Linked DNA regions of Homo sapiens. The protein of the gene in region 1 purifies or fractionates together with the protein of each later gene. This does not show direct contact. Each region holds a gene or a part of one and is shown on either strand. Other genes may lie near its edges.

Region 1 (7,210 bases):
ATCAGCAAAGAACAATGGTCAGTGACCTCACTCATTCAACAAATATTTATTGTCTACTATATTCCAGGCACTGTACACCTCCTTTAATCTGCTGAAACATCAGATATCTAAGTGCTGTGACATAACAGGAAACCGAAAAGAGATGACTATCTTTAGCCAGTGGTGTTTTTCAACTACTACAGTTTTTTTCTGCCCAGTATACCTAGCAAGGAGTGGAGGAGGGATGAGGGGTAGCAGATAAAGAGCCAATTAAAGAAAACTTCATTTTGAAAATTGACATAAAAAACTTTATGTGGATATTTAAACTAGAGAGAGGATATGAAGAAGAAATATAAAATTGACTCACTGTTAAATCTTGGACTTCTTTCTCCAGTTTAACAGCTTTTACCCTTAAGGCTCGTTCAGCAAGAGGGGGCCCAAGCTCATCAGGAGGGTCCTCAGAACGGCAGTCCTCACCAGCAGTTCTCTGGGTGGCAGTGCTGAATGGAAGCGGCCATCCCCTAAAACAGGAAGGAGGTGGCACATAATGAAGAAATGCCATCATAAGCCAAAATTACAACCAAGTTTAGAGACCAGAGATCTTCCCAGATGGAATCTCTGGAGAAAGTGTTTTCAGTTATAGTAACAAATGAACACTTACGAAGTCCTTACCATGTACCAGACACTGTTTTACTTGAGTCATCTTTTCCTCTCACAACAATATGTGAGATAAGTCCTATCATTATCCCTATTTTACAGATGAGAAAACTGATGCTGAGAGGCTTAAGGCATAATGGCCTGCTCAAGATCACATAGTTGGTATTCCGCTGGGTCAGGACACTAAGAACCAGGCAGCAGAAATAGCCAGAACTGGGTATACAAAAGTCAGCATAAGGAAACCAAATGCTAGTACCCAGAACCAGAGGAGCATTGTCAGAAGTGGGCATTCAAAAAGTCATATAGTTCTGGTTCAACCTTCTAACTTACAGATGAGGGAAATTAAGTCCAGTAAAGGGACCTTAAGGCTTAGAATTCTAAGCCTTCCTCACCACAACCTGTAAGGCTTTTAGGAGACCTGTGCTGAGAAAGAAATTCCCACCTATAAATAAGATCAAGTCAATGAAATACTTATACAATACTATATGTTACTGCCGGTGAATAGACACAGGTGAAAATAGATCTTTGCATTCAACTAGTTATGTAATCTAGAATTTTGTACAGCTAAACTGTTTTGACATTTAGTTCAGTTTACACAGAAATAAATTTAGACTAGGGGCTAGTTTACAGCAAATCTTGGGCTGTGGCAGTCCTGACCTGGCCCAGTTCAAGGAAGTTTCCACTGCAACTCCTGGATCTTCGTAATTTGACTGTAAGTAAAATTATCTTGAAAATCAATCTGTGAGTACATGAGTTCTTTAAAACAATTTTTATGGACTGGCATATACTGTAGAGTGGTCCTCACGGAGACAGCTGAGCAAAGGCTTAAAGAGGGTAAAGGAGTCAGCTTTAGAAAAGGGAAGAGCATCCTGGGCAGAGCAAATAGCTAGTTTAAAGGTGTAAGCAAGAGGACTTTTATCTCTCCTACTTTCCAAGCTGATCTTAAATTCAATTATTATAATCCGGTGTGTGATTTTATAGACAGTTCCACATTTTGGGGTCAGAAAATATGGTCACCGTAGATCTGGGGCTAATTACACACGGTGAAACATCTTCTCCCTAAAAAAACCACATTTATCCACTTGAAAAAGCAGGTCAAAATATTCTCAGGGGCCGGGCGCGGTGGCTCACGCCTGTAATCCCAGCACTTTGGGAGGCCGAGGCGTGCGGATCACGAGGTCAGGAGATCGAGACCACGGTGAAACCCCGTCTCTACTAAAAATACAAAAAATTAGCTGGGCGTAGTGGCGGGCGCCTGTAGTCCCAGCTACTCGGGAGGCTGAGGCAGGAGAATGGCGTGAACCCGGGAGGCGGAGCTTGCAGTGAGCCGAGATTGTGCCACTGCACTCCAGCCTGGGCGACAGAGTGAGACTCCGTCTCAAAAAAAAAAAAAAAAAAAAAAAAAAAAAAAAAAAAAAAATTCTCAGGGCCAGTTCAAAGGGAAAATGGCCAAAGCTTAGACCAAGAAATAGGGTTGGGGAGTTGTGGCCAATCTCAATTCCTACTGCTTCAGAACTGGAGTAGGGAGACAGCTTACCAGAAGGAACCATTTTTCTTCTGGTCATTTCCTTACATCACCAACAAGCTGCCAAAAAGACTTGAGAACGGTAAGCAAAACCAAGTCCCGAAACCCTGAATGCAACCTCTCACTTAGGTGCTAGGGTAGGATGTTGGGTCAGGTGTGTTAAGGTAAAAAGGGTGACATATGTAGTTAAGCACATTTACCAGATTCTCCCGTAGCTTACTTTACTATTCAGAGGTCCAACCCTACCTCGTACTCAACTATTTTTATTCTCTATCCCAGGAAGAAACAGTGTAGGGGCAACAGTCTCTGAGAAAATTAATTAACATCGCTCATTAAATAAGAGCGCCGATTCCAACGCCCTGACTGGTTTCCAGCCCGGGTTCCACCACTTCCCAAATATTTAAGTTTGGAAGTTACTCAACTTTTCTAAACCTCACTTTCCTTAACTACTAAATGGGTAATAATAAAAAGAACCACCCATAATTCTGCAGTCGGCCTCGTAAGCGACCAATAAAAGCTGCCGATGGAACTTGTCTTCCGAAGGCTGATGCAATGGCCGTTTGGAGAAACAAGTTCAGCGGCCTCCTTTTACTGACAGGTACAACAGTGCCCGGATAACGGAGAAAGGACTGGCCTTAGGTCACACGGAGTGAGGGGAGAGAACCCAAATTTACCCACAGGTACCACAGGCTGGGAGAAGAGGCCGGGAGAGTGGTACATCCCTCCCTTGGGGGCTTAAGAGACTTCTCACCTTCCAGGCCATGCATGACCTCGGATCTCCTTACCTTCCTCGGCCTAAGAAAGAGGCACGGCTGATGGCCTCAGTTTCCCCGTCTGTAAAATGGGGCCGTGAGTGCACGGTCGTAGAGGCCGAGAAGCTTGGTCCCCTGGCCTACGCTCAGATAGCTCTCGCCTTCCAGCCCACAACCACCCCGGCTGGCTCGCTAGCCCCTCAGAGTCCTCACGCTCCCGACTCCCCGCCTGCAATGCTTACTTGCTCTCCCACGCGGCACTCCAGGCCAGTAGGCGCTGCACCCGCAGCCGGCCCGCCCACAGCGACCGTACGGCCATGTTTCCAATTTGGGCTGAGAGGCAGCGCACGCGCACTTGCTGCGAGTGAAGAGATGCTCCCGCTTAAAAACCAGCCTTTGCGGGCGTTTCCCTCTCAGGACTTCCGGACAGGAACGCTATGCTTCCGGTTGCCCGATGGGCCGCGCCGTTCCCCATCCGGTCGTCCGGAGCTAAGGCAACACTTCCGGCTCTCAGTGTGTTCCGCGGGTAGGCGAGGTCCTAGTAGTAACTACAGTCTCCGTGCTGGGCGCAGGGTCGGCAGCAAAGAAAGCAGATCATAGCTGTGCCCGCATGGAGCTTACTTGATATTATGAGCGATAAACAGATACAAGCGGGATGTAAAGTCAGAATATGAGCGGTGTTTGAAGGTGAGGGGCAGGTGTCGCGGAAGCCTAGAATAGAAATCTAGCCTTGTGGAAAGTTTTCCCAGAGGAAGGGGGTATTTGAGCTGAGCTGAAGAAAGGGTTCAGGCAGAGGGAAACATCTGCAGAAGCCTAATAAAGAGAGAAGAGTATTGCATGTAAGGGACTGAAATATACTGAGGCGGGAGGGCAACAGGACTGGTGGTTAGGAAGGGCTAGATCACGTGAGCGGTTTAAAACATCGCAGCCTGAACCATTGCCCATCACTCCTCCCAGTCTTTTTCTCTAATGCCCTTCTTATCGACTGAATTGTTTTTTTAAATAGTGTGTATTTTCTCATTTCCTCTCACTAAAATATAAGCTCTTTTAAGGCAGAGATATTGTCTATTCATTCCCATTGAGCAGTGCCCTAATGTAGGTGTTCAAAATTATTTTTTTTGAGATGGAGTCTCACTCTGTCACCCAGGCTGGAGTGCAGTGGCACGATCTCGGCTCACTGCAACCTCTGCCTCCCAGGTTCAAGTGATTCTCCTGCCTCAGCCTCCTCAGTAGCTGGGATTACAGGCGCCCACTACACCCGGCTAATTTTTGTATTTTTAGTAGAGACAGGGTTTCACCATGTTGGTTAGGCTGGGCTTGAACTCCTGACCTCAGGTGATCTGCCTTCCTCAGCCTTCCAAAGTGCTGGGATTACAGGCATGAGCCACCGCCCCCGGCTTCAAAAAACTTTTTTGCTGAATGCAATTTAGTCTGATTCTGATTGCAATGGAATGTGAAAATAAATAAAACCTAAAAGCTGTTGGAACCTCCCAAATACTTGAAGCTTTGAGAGAGATGTGGCTGTGGTCTGAGTCCATGTAGCATGTTTTGTAGTTCTGCTTCTTAGAATTATAGCTTAATTCTCTTCCTCATTGTTCTTGTTCTGTAATGACTAGGAAAGAGCAGAGACCAGATTTCTTCCCTCTCAATTACTGATGTTTGTAATAGACAGCCTCCTTTATTGTCCTGCACCTAACTCAGACTAGATGGTGCCCTGAACTGAACTGACCCCATGACAGTTACATCTGCAGGATGTGATGTTAAATGTACCTTTCTTGAAGGAAAAAGACCACCTTAACTACTCAGATCATTGTAACTGTGCATTAAGCCTTGCATAGAAAGATGTTGAAATTCTGTTAAACCTCACTGAACCCAACCTTTCACACTTTGGAACACTGACTTCCATCTTTTTTAAGACAGACATATTTTTCCATTCTGTGCTTCCTGGGCAGGCCATCCTCAACCTTTGTGCTTGAATAAACTCTCTTTAAACTAGATTCTGACCTTTTAAATTATTTTAGATTGACAGGGAACATGTGACAAAGGCTTTCATGTTTAAAGAGTCACTTTGACTGCTGTGTGAAGCAGATTGCAAGGTGTAAGAAAAGAGGTAGGGAAGGCAATATGTTGCAGTAGCCCAGGCAAGATGGGGCTATATTCTGTCCTGGAAGAACAGAGAGAGACCTTCCTAACCACTGTAAAGTAACTGTGTCCAGCACCCTTTTAGTTTCTTAGTATTTTATTTCTTTTGCTTCCTTGTTAAGGTTTTTTCCTCCAACTAGAATGTGAGCTTCATGAGGTGTCTGTCTTGTTCACCACTGATTTCTGACATCTAGTATAGTAGGTACTCAAGTATTTGTTGAATGACTTAATTAAGTTGGATAGTGTCAGTGAAGATAGGAAGATATGGATGAATTTTAGAGATTTAGGATGGAAAGCTGACAGACTGAGAGGATGGATTGGTGACTGGGGTCCAGGGCACTTGGAGTTGCCAGCTTAGTTACTGGATAGTCCCTTAATTTTTTTTTTTAAGGGAATGGGAAGTGTTCCTTGAGCACTCTGAATCTTGTCATAACATGGGTTATTTGTACTGTAGTTATTTGGGTCACATTTTCTTTCCTGCTTGTCTCTGAGTTCCATGAGGACAGAGCTGGAGTATTTTCATCTTTTTATCTAATCCGAGGTCCAACTCAAATGTGTCATGACCAATAACTTATATTTTCTTTTTGGCCTTATGAAAAGGGTGATATGGTTTAGGGAGGTATTATGATTCTCTTTTACATATGAGAAAATTGAGGCTCAGAAAGGTTGGTAAACCTATGCAAGATCCCGCAATAAGGAAACAGTGACAGTAGAATTCTGACAGACTGAACACTTGGCAGTGTTGGGCTTAGACCTGTGGCTTACACTTTGAAAAAACACAACCAAATAAGGCATTTTTTTTTTTTTGAGATGGAGTCTTGCTATTGCCCAGGCTGGAGTGCAGTGGTGCGATCTCGGCTCACTGCAACCTCCACCTCCCGGGTTCAAGTGATTCTCCTCCCTCAGCCTCCCAAGTAGCTGGGACTACCGGCATGTGCCACCGTGCCCAGCTAACTTTTGTATTTTTGATAGAGATGGGGTTTTGCCATGTTGGCCAGGCTGGTCTTGAACTCCTGACCTCAAGTGATCCACCCGCTTCGGCCTCCCAAAGTGCTGGGATTACAGGCATGAGCCACCATACCTGGCCTAAACAAGGCATTTTAACAACCAAGAACAAGTGGCATCTGTGCCTTAGCCATTTTGCTTACATTTCTCCTAGCTGCCTAACGTTCACCAGGTTGCTGCTTGCATCCATGCATTCATTCGTCTATTTATTAAGTGCTAGTGTGCTTCTGAATGTTGCAGTACAAGGGGAGGGAGATATATGGATGACATAGAGCTTTAAAATTAAGAATAAGGCTCTAGGGTCAGACTTCTTATATTCACATGCTGGCTCCACCAGCATGTAAATATAAGAACTATGGGAGCTTGGACAAGTTACCTGACCTCTGTGAGCTTCCATTTCCTGAACTGTGAAAACTAGGGCAATATAACTTATCTCAGGGTTTCAGTGAAAACTAAAGGGATAATACCTAGAAAAGTGGTTAGTTAGCACCAGGACTGGCTATCTAATTTAAAGGGCAAAAGGAAAAGCAGAACTCCTTGTTCAAATATGATTAAGAAGGCAATAGTAGAGCATTAAACCAAGAACAGGGCCCTTCTAAGCATGGGGCCCTGTGTGACTGCACAGGTTGCATGCCTGTGAAGCTGGCCATGGCTGACACAGTGCCTGACATATGGTGAGTGCTTGATAAATGTTAATTATTAATTACCCCCAGCCACTCCTCTGAGAGTTCATCTGTTGGTGAGAAAAGACACTTAACCCCAAAATAACTGCATAAGAAAGAGTATGACAGACACTGAAGACATAGTTGGAGAGTTAGGTGACATTTCAGGATCCACGTTTTAAAAAAGAACACTGAAAAGTAATTTCCTCTTCAGTGGAAAGAACACAGGCTTGTGAGTCAGACATTTCTGATATAGCTAATAATAGCCACTTTTTTTTTTTAATAGATGGGGTCTTGCTATTTGCTTAGGCTGGAGTGCAGTGGCAATTCACAGGCGTGATCATAGTGCACTACAGTCTCAAACTCCTGGGCTCAAGCGGTCCTCCTGCCTCAGCCTCCTGAGTAGCTGGGACTACAGGCGAGTACCACCATGCCTGGCTAATGAGAGCCACTATTGACTGAGCATTTCTTATTTCTCAGACACTATG
Region 2 (7,322 bases), on another chromosome or scaffold:
ATTTAGTTGCTCAAGTTTATAGTATAAGTGACAAAGCTGGGATTTGAATGCAGGCTTTTTGACTCTAGAGCCAGTTTAGGAGAAATGGATATTCTGATGTAACTTTTTCCTAGTTTTGAACTTTCTTAGGACCATGACCAAATCAAAGTTCTTCTATTACAAAAATTAATTTTCATAGCTAGAATCAGATATTTTTATAGCAAAATATATTTCTGCTGCAATACTCTGAGCTCTCTTTAGTAATGAACTCAAGTTTATATTTTCTTACGCTTTCCTTTTACCTATGGTTTTAACAATATTTTACCTGTGGTGGTAATTTTTTTAAAAATGTGAACTATCTCAACAGTAATTTTATATTAAATTATTTTTCTGTAACCGTCAGCCCTAATTAATTTTAGCATCTGTTTTCACTCCCTGAATTTTAGTAATCTGTTGTTGAGATAATTATAGCAAACTACCTAATCTAAGGATGACTAATTTTCTAGTAAACCAGAAAAGGTGTACTTCTTAGGTCTTTGCTCAAATGTCACCTTATCTAAGAAGCTTACAGTGATCCAATATCTACAATAGCACCCTACTACCTTGTGCCAAATCACTTCGTTATTTACTCGATTTACTTTATTTTTCTCTTAAATTGTATGTGTTTATTGTTTCTTTCTCCAATAAAAGATAAAGAAAAATGGGCATTTTTATGGAGAATTTGGAGTTGAGTTTTTTCTTGCTCTAAATATAGTTGGACCTCCATATCTGTGGGTTCCACATCTATAGATTTAACCAATAATGAATTGAAGATATTTGAGAAAAAAAGAATGGATATGTCTGTACTGAATATGTACAGACTTTTTTCTTGTTATTTCCTAAACCATACACTATAACAACTATTTATATAGTATTTACATTGTATTAGGAATTATAAGTAATCTAGAGATGATTTAAAGTATACAAGAAAATGTACATAGGTTATATGCAAACACTACATCATTTTATATAAGGGCCTTGAACATCCCTGAATTTTGCTATCTGTGGATAGGGTGGGCAGTGGGTCATGAAACCAATCACTCACAGATACTGAGGGATGACTATAAATTTTCTGTACCTCTGCTTATATATGCTATATAATACTAGTGGCATCTTGAGCAGTATATTTTAGACTCTTTTACAGGTGGTACAATTTGTAAAAAAATGGATTTATGCAACTTTATTTTGACAAATTATTGGCAGAGCAGAGTTAGGACCCAGGGAAAACTTTTTTACTGTGCTTTTCATTGTATATCTTTTTCTTAGTCCCTCTTTCGCTCTCGAGATTATTTTTAAATAAAAGTATAGCAATATGCATATTATTATCAATACATTGTTATTTATCTAAAGGAAACTTAAAATATAACTAAAATATTCTCTAAGTTTTGATTTTTTTTCTTGTCACTATTAATCTTTAGTGTTCCTTCAAAATACTTCATATGAAAGACCCACTTGTTTACAATGTCTTGGTACTTTAGAAAAGCCTAAGTAACATGTGCTACTTGGGAAGGTCAGCACTATTATTGCCCTTCATGTTTCTGATTTGTTAGGATTATACCAAATGTAATATTATTTTAGGAAATCCTGAGTGAATGAATGAATTGAATGAATAAAATTCCTAGGTTATATATTATTCTTTTCAATTTTTTCCTCTTAAATTTGGAGTTAGGATTATGGAAAAAAATGCCATATGCTATGCATCAGGGTCTAATCTCTTGATCTCTGTTTTATTCTCTCTTCATGTAAATTGTCCCTTTCCTTGACTTTTTCCATAGATCAAATCCAGCAGGGATCAAGCTTTGGCTGAACGTTGTCTTGCTGCACTAACCGAATGTGCTGCTAGCGGAGATGGAAATATCCTGGCTCTTGCAGTGGATGCATCTCGGGCAAGGTGAAGATATATAAGTTTGGAGGTTTCCAAAGACTAAAAGTTGACCAGTTTAGCTTTTCAGAGTATACTTAAATAAAAGGTTGATCCTGTAAACCATGTGAGCCCAAAAGAAAATAATGGCATCCATCGTAAATTTAATTCTTATCATTTTAAAATTTCTGTATTTAAAACATTCATGTTTTGAGTGAACTGTATTAATAATTGTGTATTTTACTGTGGCTGAGGAATTTTGAAACTATTGAAATGAATCCATTTCACTGATTCGCAGGTTGAAATGTGTTGGACTCTCAAGTATATCACCAGGTTTATGCCTATTACCTTGGTATTTTACCAGTTAAAATGGCTGTGGGGTGGGGAGGGGAACATTAATCTGAGAATTTATAGGAAAAACTTGTCATCCCATTGCTTTTGAATTAGTTTTAACCATGAAGCAACCGGAAGAGCAACCAACTTCCCCACACCCCCCTCCCAGTCCTTCCCTTGTTATTGGAGCCATGTGTTCCTTTAGGAGTAGAATACTTATTAATTGTTACTAGTCTTTTATCTCCTTTTGACATTTTGGTCTACTGCATTTGATTTTCTACTGTAATATAATTGCTCTTACTAAGTTCACTAGAGACCTCCTCTTTGTCTGATATTGTGAATAATTTTTAGTCCTTATCTTGAATTCTCTACAGTATTTAACATTATTGACCACCTCTTCCTTCTTGAGACGTTTTGCCTTTGTAACCCTTAACATGCTCCTTTGTCTCCTAACTTTTGTCATCCTGCATTTAAAAAAGGCTGAGTGAAAAACAGAATCTAATCTCATGTTATATCTGCTTCAGTGTTCCCATAGACACGATATTTGGCAAGGTAAAGTTTTTTGTACTTACTACCTAATAGGATTTTTGTGAGAAGACATTAAATCATTAAAAATAGTTCCTGGAACAGAATATGGCACTTAATGTGTTAATTTTTATTATTTTTCTATTTGTTGTTATTTAAAAATTATCTCATTATATGTATCATATATAAATAAATTTATTATATTAAGAACCAGAAGGAGTCTGAAATATTACCCTTCTTGCAAGCTAACAAGTTATCCTGTATAGTGGGGTGTTGGTTGATGATATGAGATCCCTGGATCAGAACCTAATGACAGTTTGTTACTACAATATTAATAGCCATAACATCAGCAGGTTTTGGGCTAGTTCCTTTGATGCCCAATTGATGTGAGTGATGTGAAAAGGACTGCTAGATGATACCTCATGTACAGTGCATTGGGTTACATTCAAGGAGAGGAAGCCTGAGCTTAGGGATTCGGAATCTTTTGTAATGGGTAATAAGCATGTCCTCCATTTTTCTAGAGGAAGACATTATTATATTGGACAGAAAGCAAACCTACTCTTTGCTCTGGAGGTAGCCAATATTTCTGTCTTCTAAGGCGATTCACTATACAGACATCTTTGAAAAGATAGTCCAGAATAAAGAGGTGTCAGTGCTTTGCTCCACAGGATGTGCAGAAAAGCAAGTGACCCATGGAAAATTTTCTCCCAATATATGGCAGTATCATTAAATGATTACTTTTGCTTTTAAGTGTTTATTTCTTAATATAATGAAGTTTTAAAAAAATATGTTGCTTTAACTGGTTAAGGTATAGTATAACTTGTATGTACTGTTTTTTTCTACTACTAATTTCATTAAAAAAATTAGATGACTTTTATTAAAGTCCTTTGATGGTTGCCCATTCCTTTTATATTCAAACCTAATCTTCCGATAGTCTGCAAGATGTGCTAGATGTGACTCTTGCCCATCTCTCTGACCTCATCTTATACCACTTTCCTCACTATGCCGTGTTCCTAATGCCCTTCTTTCTATTTTTAGAACATAAAACATATTTTCCTACATCTCAGAGCCTTTGCTTTTAGTGCTTCCTTTTTCAAACACTCTTACTGTTTTATGTTCCCTTGGGATCCCCCTTTTTATAATTTATATCTTAGTTCAAAAGTCATATCTTCACATCTTCAATAACTTTAAAATGGTTCTTCCAGACAGCCCATTCCATCTTTGCGTGGTTTAGTGTCTTTGTAGTACTTATTACCTTATGAAATTGTCTTACTAGTTTATTTATTTAGTTATTTATCATCTGCATCCTCTGACTAGATGTTACAGATGTTAATGTCTATAAGAACAAGTACTTTTTCTTTGGTCTCATTTATTACTGTATCGCTATAGTAGATATAGAGATATAGTAATATCTGGCACATATTAGGCACACAGCTAATGTTGGATGAGTTAGTGAACAAATGGATGGAATATGCTAAAAGATTTACTTCTTATCAAAAAATATTTATGGGAGTGTTGCTGTTTATCCATTTGTGTTAAGTGGTGAATTATTCAGCAACCTTCAGGTACTTGTCTATATATATAATTATTAGGTCATTCAGTCATTTCTTGGTTGACAAATGTTGAAAAGAGAATTGGATGCATAAAGGCATCCAGAATAAATTTTTCTTAAGTAATTTCAGAAGAGATGCTTTCATAATGCATTAAAAAATTCTTATTTTACATTTTTACAGTCATTTACTTATGTAATAAAATGTTTAATTATATTGAATATTATGGTAAACAGATATCTTTATCACAAAATAATGAAGTTAATGGAACCACCATTTCATGTTTCAGATGTACAGTGGGAGAAATCACAGATGCCCTGAAAAAGGTATTTGGTGAACATAAAGCGAATGATCGAATGGTGAGTGGAGCATATCGCCAGGAATTTGGAGAAAGTAAAGAGATAACATCTGCTATCAAGAGGTAATATGTAAGGTTTCTTAGGCCAGAATTTCATCTTTTCTGTTAGCACAATCCCCTTGAATCTACTGGGAGCTTAATTTCCTTACATACAACTGAGAAAATTTTTGAATTTTATAATAATAAATAGTAAATTAAATATTAATTATATAGACTATATAACATATAATAGAGTATATAATTTATTCATTACATATAATATATAATTAGAAATATATCATACATGATACATATTATATATCTATACTATCATTTTAATAGGTACATGATAATATTTAATAATAAATATCAAATATTGAAACTAATATTAGTTTTCATATAATTAATACTATTTTGAACTTTCACCATAGTCCCCTTCAGGAGTTTCTCATGTCAAACAGATGTTTAACTAACAATGATATTGCTTCATATCCTCCAGGTATTTATATTTCAATCTGCTTACTATGGTAGAGTTTCATATTTTTTGAAGTTGTTTACATTTTTCATTGCTTGAATAATTATAAAATCTTAATTTTCATAATTGAAAGTAAACATTTAGTTGGCATCTATGCATACATTACAATCAGTATTTATTGAACTGATAATAACTTACATTTATTTCCACAGCATGACTTGGAAATATATATTAATGTGATCATATTTCTCAAGTGTAAGAACTAGCTTTTTGATGATTGGTCTTTCCAACCTCTGTAACAAGCTTCCAATTAAAAACTGAATTTCCATACTTGTACACTAGATAAATATCAAAACAGCCAAGGTGAAAGTCATCAAAATGGAACTTTTTTCTTTTAACAAAGATAAGTGCTTTTTTGTGTTGGAAGTAAATTTGTCAGTGGAGCAAGCAAGCATTTTGATTTATATAGCATGATAAGAAACCATATTGCTGTTACCTTGGGAGAGTTCACACTTATGAAGGGTAGATGAGATATGGACAATTCAAAGCAGCCAGTCTATCACATATATGTATAAATGACCATGAAGTCACTTTTTAGTTTATATTTCAATCTTTCTGCATGTTGTACTCTGTACCCTGGCTCACGAAGGTGGGAGGTTGTCATTTTTTGTCTTAGTTCACCGTGATGTTCTCAGTGTTATGTGCTTACAGTCTGTGCCATCTTTCAGACTTTCCTCTAAGGGGGAAATGGCTTTAATGGAGCTCTCAATGTAAAATAGATGCATTAACAAAATATGGACGAGAGTAGGGAGATCATCACAAAGAATAGCTAATGGATGCTGGGCTTAATACCTAGGTGATGGGGTGATCTATGCAGCTGTTTACCATGGCACGTGTTTAACTATGTAACAAGCCTGCACATTAACCCCTGAATGTAAAATAAAAATTGGAAAAAAAAAACAACCCAAAATACAAGTAAACAAATTAGGTGCTTTTAAATAAACTTGAAAGATTTGCTGTGAATAAATTAGTTTTTATATCTTCCCTTTGGAAAATTAGTATCTAACTACTGATATATTTTTAAATGTTTTTCAGGGTTCATAAATTCATGGAACGTGAAGGTCGCAGACCTCGTCTTCTTGTAGCAAAAATGGGACAAGATGGCCATGACAGAGGAGCAAAAGTTATTGCTACAGGATTTGCTGATCTTGGTTTTGATGTGGACATAGGCCCTCTTTTCCAGGTACTAAAAACTGTTGGGGGGAATTTCAAAAGTATTTACTAGTCACTTACATTTAGAAAATGTAGTAAAATGATGACAGACATTGAGCAAATTAATACATCTCCTGGTAACTGGTATGTAGCCACTGACTTGGCAAATGCCTTTCTCTCCATTCCTGCCCATAAGGCCCACCAGAAGCAATTTGCCTTCAGCTGGCAAGGCCAGCAATATACCTTTACTGTCCTACTGCAGGGGTTTATTAACTCTCTGGCTTTGTCATAATCTTATTCGGAGAGACCTTGATCACTTTTCACTTCTGCAAGATATCACACTGGTCCATTAATTGATGACATTATACTGATTAAATCCAGTGAGCAAGAAGTAGCAAACATACTGGACTTATTGGTGAGACAGTTGCATGCCAGAGGATGGGAAATAAATCTGACTAAAATTCAGGGACCTTCTCCCTCAGTAAGGGGTCCAGTGGTGTGGGACCTGTTGAGATATTCCTTCTAAGGATAATCTTAGAAGGATAAATTAATGAATTTGTCTCCTACTAAAACCAAGAAAGAGGAACAATGCCTAGTGGGCCTATTTGGATTTTTGGAAGCAACACATTCCTCATTTGGAATGTGTTACTCTGTGTTACTCTGGCCTATTTATCGAGTGACCCAAAAGACTGCCAGTTTTGAGTGGGGTCCAGAATAGGAGAAGGCTCTGCAACAGGTCCAGGCTGCTGTGCAAGCTACTCTGCCACTTGGGCCATATGACCCAGCAGATCCAATGGTGCTTGAGGTGTCAGTGGCAGATAGCAATGATGTTTGGAGCCTTTGGCAGGCCCCCATAGGTGAGTCACAGCAGAGGCCTCTAAGATTTTGGAGGAAGGGCCTGCCATCTTCTGCAGATAACTACTCTCCTTTTGAGAGACAGCTCTTGGCCTGTTACTGGACTTTGGTGGAAACTGAATGTTTGACTATGGGTCATCAAGTCACCATGCGACC
Region 3 (7,518 bases), on another chromosome or scaffold:
GATGTGGTGGTGCACGCCTGTAATCCCAGCTACTCCGGAGGCTGAGGCAGGGGAATCGCTTGAACCTGGGAGGTGGAGATTGCAGTGAGCTGAGATCGCGCCACTGCACTCCAACCTGGGTGACAGAGCAAGACTCTGTCTCAAAAATAAATTAATTAATTAAATAAACCACTTCAAAAAGAAAAAAAATGTCTGGTGTGATGGCTCACGCCTGTAATCCTAGCACTTTGGGAGGCCAAGGCGGGTGTATCACTTGAGGTCAGGAGTTCGAGACCAGCGTGGCCAACATAGTGAAACCCCATCTCTATTAAAAATACAAAATTACCATCCTGGCTAACATGGTGAAACCCCGTCTCTACTAAAAATACAAAAAATTAGCTGGGCTTAGTGGCGGGTGCCTATAGTCCCAGCTACTCAGGAGGCTGAGGCAGGAGAATGACGTGAACCCGGGAGGCGGAGCTTGCAGTGAGCCAACATTGCGCCACTGCACTCCAGCCTGGGTGACAGAGCAAGACTCCGTCTCAAAACAAACAAACAAAATTAGCTGGGCATGATGGCATGCGCCTATAGTCCCAGCTACTCGGGAGGCTAAGGCAGGAGAATCACTTGAACCCGGGAGGCAGAGGTTGCAGTGAGCTGAGATCTTGCCACTGCACTCCAGCCTGAGCAACAGAGTGAGACTCCATCTCAAAAACAAAACAAAACAAAACAGAAACACCTTCACAAAAAGAAAAAAAATTTTTTTTGAGACAGGGTCTCACTCTGATACCCACGCTGGAGTGTAGTAGCGTGATCAAGGCTCACCACAGGCTCAAGCGATCCTCCCACCTCAGCCTCCCAAGTAGCTGGGAATACAGGCACACACCACCATACCTAGCTAAGTTTAAAATTTTTTTTGTAGAAGTGGGTTTTCGCTGTTGCCCAGGCTGGTCTCAAACTTCTGAGCTCAAGCAATCCATCTGCCTCAGCCTCTCAAAGTGCTGGGATTACAGGCGTGGGCCACTGCTCCCAACAATTATTATTATTTTAGAGACAGTGTCTTGGTGTCACCTAGGGTGCCATGCAGTGGAGAGATAATAGCTCAATGCAGCCTTGAACTTCTGGGCTAAGTGATCCTCAAACTACTGCATAGCTAGAACTACGGTCACGCACCACCATATATACATCGATTTTTTTTATAGAGACAGAGTCTTGCTTTGTTGCCAGGCTCCTGGGAGATTTAATTCTATCACTGTACACTCGGTTAAATAATTAGTTGGTGTGTCTAGCCAAAAAGTAGTATCCGAAAACCCTCAGTATCTGGAAATACGTACGAGTGGGGAACTTTTTTTTTTAGACAGGCTCGCACTCGCTGTGTCACCTAGGCTGGAGTGCAACCTCTGCCTCCTGGGTTCAAGCAATTCTCCTGCCTCAGCTTCCAGAGTAGCTGGGACTACAAGCACGCACCGCCACACCCAGCTAATTTTTGTATTTTTAGTGGAGAATGTGTTTTTGCCACGTTGGCCAGGCTGGTCTTGAACTCCTGGCCTCAAGTGATCCGCCCCCCCTTGAGCCTCCCAAAGTGCTGGGATTACAGGCGTGAGCCACAGCACCCGGCCAAGAGTGGGGAACATTTAAAATGGTAATCTTGAGAAGGCTGTTTAAGATGTGTAAGTTCCTTAATTTAGCCAGTGTGGTAATCAGCTGAGGGTGCTGAAGAGTGACCTATAATGAGGCTGGGTTTTGAACAGAATCTCACATGTTAATACAAATGAGTTTATTATATTTTGTATTTATTATCAGGAGCATTTTTTTCCTAAAGATAAGGCAGGGTATCAGGCTAAGGAGATGATAGGAAAGAAAAAAATCATTTAAAAACTTAAAAAGACAATATAGTTGTAAAAATTTTTCTAAAAAGAAAAAATAAAAAGGCAGGATCATCAAACCAGCTTTTTTTCCCACGAACTAGGCACGCCACATGTTTTTTACCTTTTCTTAACTTCAAATCCTATCGCCCTTTTTTTCTTCTTTCTTTACAGACTAGAAGTCTGTGGGCTGTTTGGCATGCAGTACTTTTAAAGTATTCATTAGTGGCCAATATTTAGAAGGAAATCTATAGCATTAAAACAGATTTCCAGAGTTTCCTGAAAAAAAAAAAGGTTTTTAAAGGATTTGCTTTCCTAAAATGGCAACAATCAGTGGAGGTGAGTAATGGCTGCCCCCTGGACAGGTGGGCTAGTTGCTGTCCAGTTCACCAGGTTTCCAACCAAGCCAGCTTTACTCATTAATGAACAATTGATGTTCCATTTGTTTGTCATTCCTGCTCAGTAGCTTATGTCTCCTAGCCACTGGGGCCAGACAGTGCCAATCCCTTTAGGAGCTTCAGACTAAGCTGTTATGACTATGCTACCAAGGAATAAGCCTGGTGAAGAAACAGGCTTTTCTGTTAGGCACAGGGCTTTCGGAGCTGAACAATTTCCCAGTCTGATGGAAGAGACTGACAACTACAGTATGGAGTAGTGGCCATGTACCTACATTAAGAGTTATTTACGATGAGTAAATAAAGGGAGCAACAGGGGACCAGAGGAGGTGAAATGAATAATTTTCACCTTGCCGTATTGACTTCAAGGGCCTGGAGAAGCGTCTAACCTAGACTTCTGGAGTAAGCTGAAGCCCAAAGGGTAAAGAGGCATATTAATACAAATGGTTAAGTTTCAGGCAGAGGGAATATCAGGTAAGGTGTGTGGTGGGGAAGAGACAATGAAAGTGGAGATACCTGGAGCAGAGGGTGATAAGCGAAAAGTGAGAGATGAAGATTAAGGTACAAGCGAGGATCAATTTATGTCGTCTGAGCTTTATCTTAGGGACAATGGGAAGCCCCTGTGATACTATAAGGGTAAGTTTACTGGGACTCCGAAGTGATTTGTTCGTTATACAATTAGGAACAGAACCAAAAAATGAACTGCTAATTTTTAAAATTAATTCCTAATCAATGTACTATTACTTCCCCGCTGTCCCATGTTTATCGCTGACGCACCAATTCAAAGGACACGGCACATGTTTCTTTTTTTTTTTGAGATGGAGTTTCGCTCCTGTTGCCCAGGCTAGAGAGCAATGGCGCGATCTCGGCTCACTACAACCTCCGACTCCAGGGTTCAAGCAATTCTCCTGCCTCAGCCTCCGGAGTAGCTGGGATTACAGGCATGCGCCACCACGCCCGGCTAATTCTGTATTTTTAGTAGAGACAGGGTTTCTCTGTGTTGGTCAGGCTGGTTTCAAACCCCCGACCTAAGATGATCCGCCCGCCTCGGCCTCCCAAAGTACTGGTATTACAGGCGTGCGCCACCACGCCCGGCCTGCGGAAATGGCCTCAACGCTTCAACCGGAAGCAGAAATTGACCGCGGCAGGCGCCATCTAACGGCCGCTGGAGCAAAGCTCCTCCTGGAAATTCGCAACACCGGAAAAGGTCCGGCTGCTTCCGGTAAAAACCCACCAGAGCTGACGTTCAGAGGGCGAGTCTCGAAGATCCGGCCAATTTGCCCAGCGCGCTGTGCTCCGCGACGGCGCATGCCCGCTTTTGCGCAGGCGCGGGGACTACGGCGCAGGCGCGGAGACTATTGCGCAGGCAAGCGCGTACGCAGAAGCGTGCGCGCGCCCGTTCAACGTCCGGAGCATCGGTGCAGTTTCGAGGGTAAAGCCTTTGGCGCGGTGATGTGGACTTTTGTTCTCTAACTACAACTCCCAGCATACGTCACCCCTCACGTGGGCGCTAGGTGTGGTTTCGTGGGATAGGGTAAGGCGAAAATGAAGTGACGATGACGTACCAAAGAGGAAAATAGTTGAATATGTTGTGTGAGCGCGTCGTTTGCAGAAGCCCCAGTGGCCTAATGGATAAGGCATTGGCCTCCTAAGCCAGGGATTGTGGGTTCGAGTCCCATCTGGGGTGGCCTGTGACTTTTGTCCTTTTTTCCCCTTTCTAAACAAAGCGAAATATGCCAACTTTACTTTTTTTTTTTTTAAATGGGAAGTGTGTGTGTGTTTTTACTAGCTGGTGGGCTGCAATTTTCGAGAATCTGCACACACCCATGTCCTTTGTCTGAGCCGCAGGTCCCCTGGGATTTGGGGAGACGTCAATACGTTGAATTTTGATATCCCTTTTATAAATCATTTAAAAATGTCTTCTCAGCGTGTTCCATATCAAATCCACACCCACACCCCCCGCCGGGCCCGCTTCTCCTGAGACTCAGCGGTTGGTCGGCTAACGGGCATCTTCAATGACGCAGTGAAGAAAAGCCCCTGTTTCCCCAAACCCTTGTTCTGGGTTAGAGGTCCTGGTACCTTCAGTTAACAGTCGGGTTTCGTTTGATTTTGTTACGGCGCCCCTGGGCCTTCGATTAATAAGGTTCGGTCAACGGACAAGTGAGCGGTTCCACTGCTCGTCAGTCGATAGGGGGAGTCGGTAGTCTGTCCGACCGTACCATTAGGCGCCTGGGCCGGAGGAGGGGTTTTCAGGGTCGTAGGACGCCGTTGGGCACCACGCTCGGAGAAGGACAGGACAATGGCGGCCTTAGGGTCCCCGTCGCACACTTTTCGAGGACTTCTGCGGGAGTTGCGCTACCTGAGCGCGGCCACCGGCCGACCCTATCGCGACACCGCGGCCTATCGGTACCTTGTGAAGGCTTTCCGTGCACATCGGGTACGGGAGCCATGTCCCGGGTGCTCTACGTGCTGGGGAGGGAGGAAGAGCCGGGTCTGGGCTAGGGTGGGGAGCACGGTGTTTAATTCCTGCATTTCTGAGGCCAACCCTCCCACGGAGCCCTGGTTCTGACCAAACCAACCCAGGCCCTAGGCTCCATGCTCTGGCATAAACTCGGGGACCAAAGGACCAGCGGGGGGGGGCGCAGAGTCGCTCTGGGGACGTCAGCCTGTCCTGCAGAGGGGCGGACCCGTCCCGAAGGATTTCATTGGCTGGTCTGTTGCCTCTGCGGAGGGCAGTCAGGAAAGTGGAATGGAGGATTCAATGCTGGGGATAAAACAATGAAGATGGAGTTGAAGGGTGTACTGTTGCTAGACTTAAAGCCACAGCATCTGGCCAACAATTTCCTCACCCGTCCCCTAGAAAAGTTATTCTAAGAAGCATTTCTTTTTGAGGCGGAAAAGAACAACTGGGCTTTAGGGAAGGAAACTTGCTGCCCTTGAGCAATGTGGGGAAAGGGAGAACGATCAACTGTCGAATTTCTGAGCCACGGACGTCAGAATGTAAAATCTTAGAACTCAAATTCACCTAGTTTTTAAAAGGTGGCAACGTTAGGGTCTGTGCTAGGAACCTGGTCTAAACAGGAAGAATCAGATGCACATGTGTCCTGTCCTTAAGACACTTGCTGCCCACCTAAGGAGCCATACAGTAAAGTACTGAGGATAAATAAGTGCTCAAGGTGTAGACAACAGGGGCTGGGGTATAAAGAAGGGGTAGTTAGGGAAGGTTTTCCGGAGGAAATTAATCAGGGACCTGAAGGCTAATTTGGAGTTAGCAAGTAAATTGGGGTTAGGGTCCAGGTTTAAAAGCTACACAATTGAAAGCCCAAGGGGAGAAAAATTGCCAGTTGAGAGTGGTTTAGCCCTAAGGTGTGGTGGGTGAAGTGGAGGTAGATGAAGTGGTAGGCCGAACAGGAACTTAAACTTTATTGTAAGTGTAATGGGAAGCCATTCTAAGATTGTGATCACCTCCCAGGTTCAAGCGATTCTCCTGCCTCAGCCTCCCGAGTAGTACAGGCAGGCGACATGCGACACCACGCCCGGCTAATTTTGTATTTTTAGTGGAGACGGGGTTTCTCCATGTTGGTCAGGCTGGTCTTGAACTCCTGACCTCAGGTGATCCGCCTGCCTCGGCCTCCCAAAGTGTTGTAATTACAGGCGTGAACTATCAAACCTGGCCCCATTCTAAGATTTTTAAGGAGGTGACATGATTATAGTTGTACCTTATGGGGATAACATTATTACCCTTGAGAGAGACTTGGTAATGGTTCTGAAATTCATGGTACATTCTGGAAATACCACTCTGGAATGCACTTGAGCATAGGGGAAATGGTTTCTGTTTCCTTCAGGCTCACAGCTAACTGAATAACCATCCCATTTTCTCTATCCTTTCCCTCCGGAGAAGGGATTCTATTAGGGAGAAACCTACCCTTTCTCCACAGGGAAAATACAGTGTTCTATTTCATTTGATCTCTTTTGGGTTCTTGTGATCTATTTACTGTTTCCTGTCTATTGCTGACCCTTTTGTCCTCATGATTCAGGCTCAACCGAATCAAGAGCAGTATTCTATCCTACATTAACCTAGAATTCCCATGTCAAATTCCACAAATTTGGGCTTATATATTAATAGAAGTGGATGCTATGATTTGTTAATGCTTGACATTGGTGTTGATTTCTCATAAAATTTAAATTACTAAAAAGTTAAATTTGTATTAAAGCAGATTAATTCTGTTTTTAAGCAGCTAATGAATGTTGCTTTCAACATGATCTGCAGATCCTAAAACCCACATTCTAACAGCATGGGCAACATAGTGTAGTGAGACTTCCTCTCCAAAAAATTTGAAAATTATCCAGGCGTGATGGCCCATCCTCTAGTTCCAGCTAATTGGGAAGCTGAGGTGAGAGGATCACTTGAGCCCAAGAAGTCGATCAAGGCTGCAGTGAGCCATGTTCATACCACTGCTCTCCAGCATAGGCCACGGAGCGAGACCCTGTCTCAAAAACCAAGAAGCCACACACATTCTAGTTTTCAGATTCTAACACTAGATATTCAAATAGAGAAAGGGGATTAGGCCAGGAGCGGTGGCTCACACCTGTAATCCCAGCACTCTGGGAGGAGGCGGCAGGTGGATCGCTTGTGCCCAGGAGTTCACGACCAGCCTGGGCAACATGGTGAAACCCTGTTTGTATAAAAAATACAAAAATTAGCCGGATATGGTGGTGTGCGTCTGTAGTCCCAGCTACTTGCGGGGCTGAGGCAGGAGGATCACTTGAGCTGGGGAGATCAGCAGCCATGTTCACGCTATTGCACTCCAGCCTGGGCAACAAAGTGAGACCCTGTCCCCAAAAAAAAAAAAAAAAAAAAGAGTTGGTGGGGGGCGTATTATGTAGGCAGTGGTGCCCAGATTTATCCACATTTGGACATGGCTCCTTTAGTCCCTCAGAGCTATGCACACATCCCCATCTCACCTTTCCTGCCCCTTTCTCACAGCCTTGAATACAGAACTAGTTAAAGAGGGTGCAGTGAATCTCAAAAGTTAAGTATGATGAAGAAAAAAGGTTTGGAATCATTTGGGGACTTTGGAATGGATATGGAATTTCTAGCTTCTTAAAGTCATGAGTCCAGAGTTTTCAAGATGGATAAGCAAATTGTAAGAGCGAGAATAGCCATTCCTCAGTAACTGTGGGGACTGGTTCCAGGACACCCCCCACCCCCACTCAGGAATACCAAAATCCATGGATGCTCAAGTCCCTGACATAAAATGCTGTAGTATTTGCAATAT

The links.
Region 2: the proteins of GRPEL2 (region 1) and MMUT purify together in Homo sapiens (affinity purification with mass spectrometry; 2 studies listed by BioGRID and IntAct, with this or other methods). This does not show direct contact.
Region 3: the proteins of GRPEL2 (region 1) and FMC1 purify together in Homo sapiens (affinity purification with mass spectrometry, with the first as the bait; 3 studies listed by BioGRID). This does not show direct contact.

Annotation. Positions count from the first base shown.
Region 1 is NC_000005.10:149,341,562-149,348,771, reverse strand, and holds the start of GRPEL2 (grpE protein homolog 2, mitochondrial precursor), read right to left. Parts: upstream 3,274-7,210; 5' UTR 3,233-3,273; coding exon 3,156-3,232; intron 657-3,155; exon of another isoform or gene 501-656; coding exon 347-500; intron 1-346. UniProt on the Homo sapiens protein: Essential component of the PAM complex, a complex required for the translocation of transit peptide-containing proteins from the inner membrane into the mitochondrial matrix in an ATP-dependent manner.
Region 2 is NC_000006.12:49,439,226-49,446,547, reverse strand, and holds part of MMUT (methylmalonyl-CoA mutase, mitochondrial precursor), read left to right. Parts: intron 1-1,793; coding exon 1,794-1,909; intron 1,910-4,576; coding exon 4,577-4,708; intron 4,709-6,194; coding exon 6,195-6,342; intron 6,343-7,322. UniProt on the Homo sapiens protein: Catalyzes the reversible isomerization of methylmalonyl-CoA (MMCoA) (generated from branched-chain amino acid metabolism and degradation of dietary odd chain fatty acids and cholesterol) to succinyl-CoA (3-carboxypropionyl-CoA), a key intermediate of the tricarboxylic acid cycle.
Region 3 is NC_000007.14:139,336,847-139,344,364, forward strand, and holds the start of FMC1 (protein FMC1 homolog), read left to right. Parts: upstream 1-4,490; 5' UTR 4,491-4,538; coding exon 4,539-4,676; intron 4,677-7,518. Other genes in the region: FMC1-LUC7L2 readthrough protein, read left to right, coding at 4,539-4,676. UniProt on the Homo sapiens protein: Plays a role in the assembly/stability of the mitochondrial membrane ATP synthase (F(1)F(0) ATP synthase or Complex V).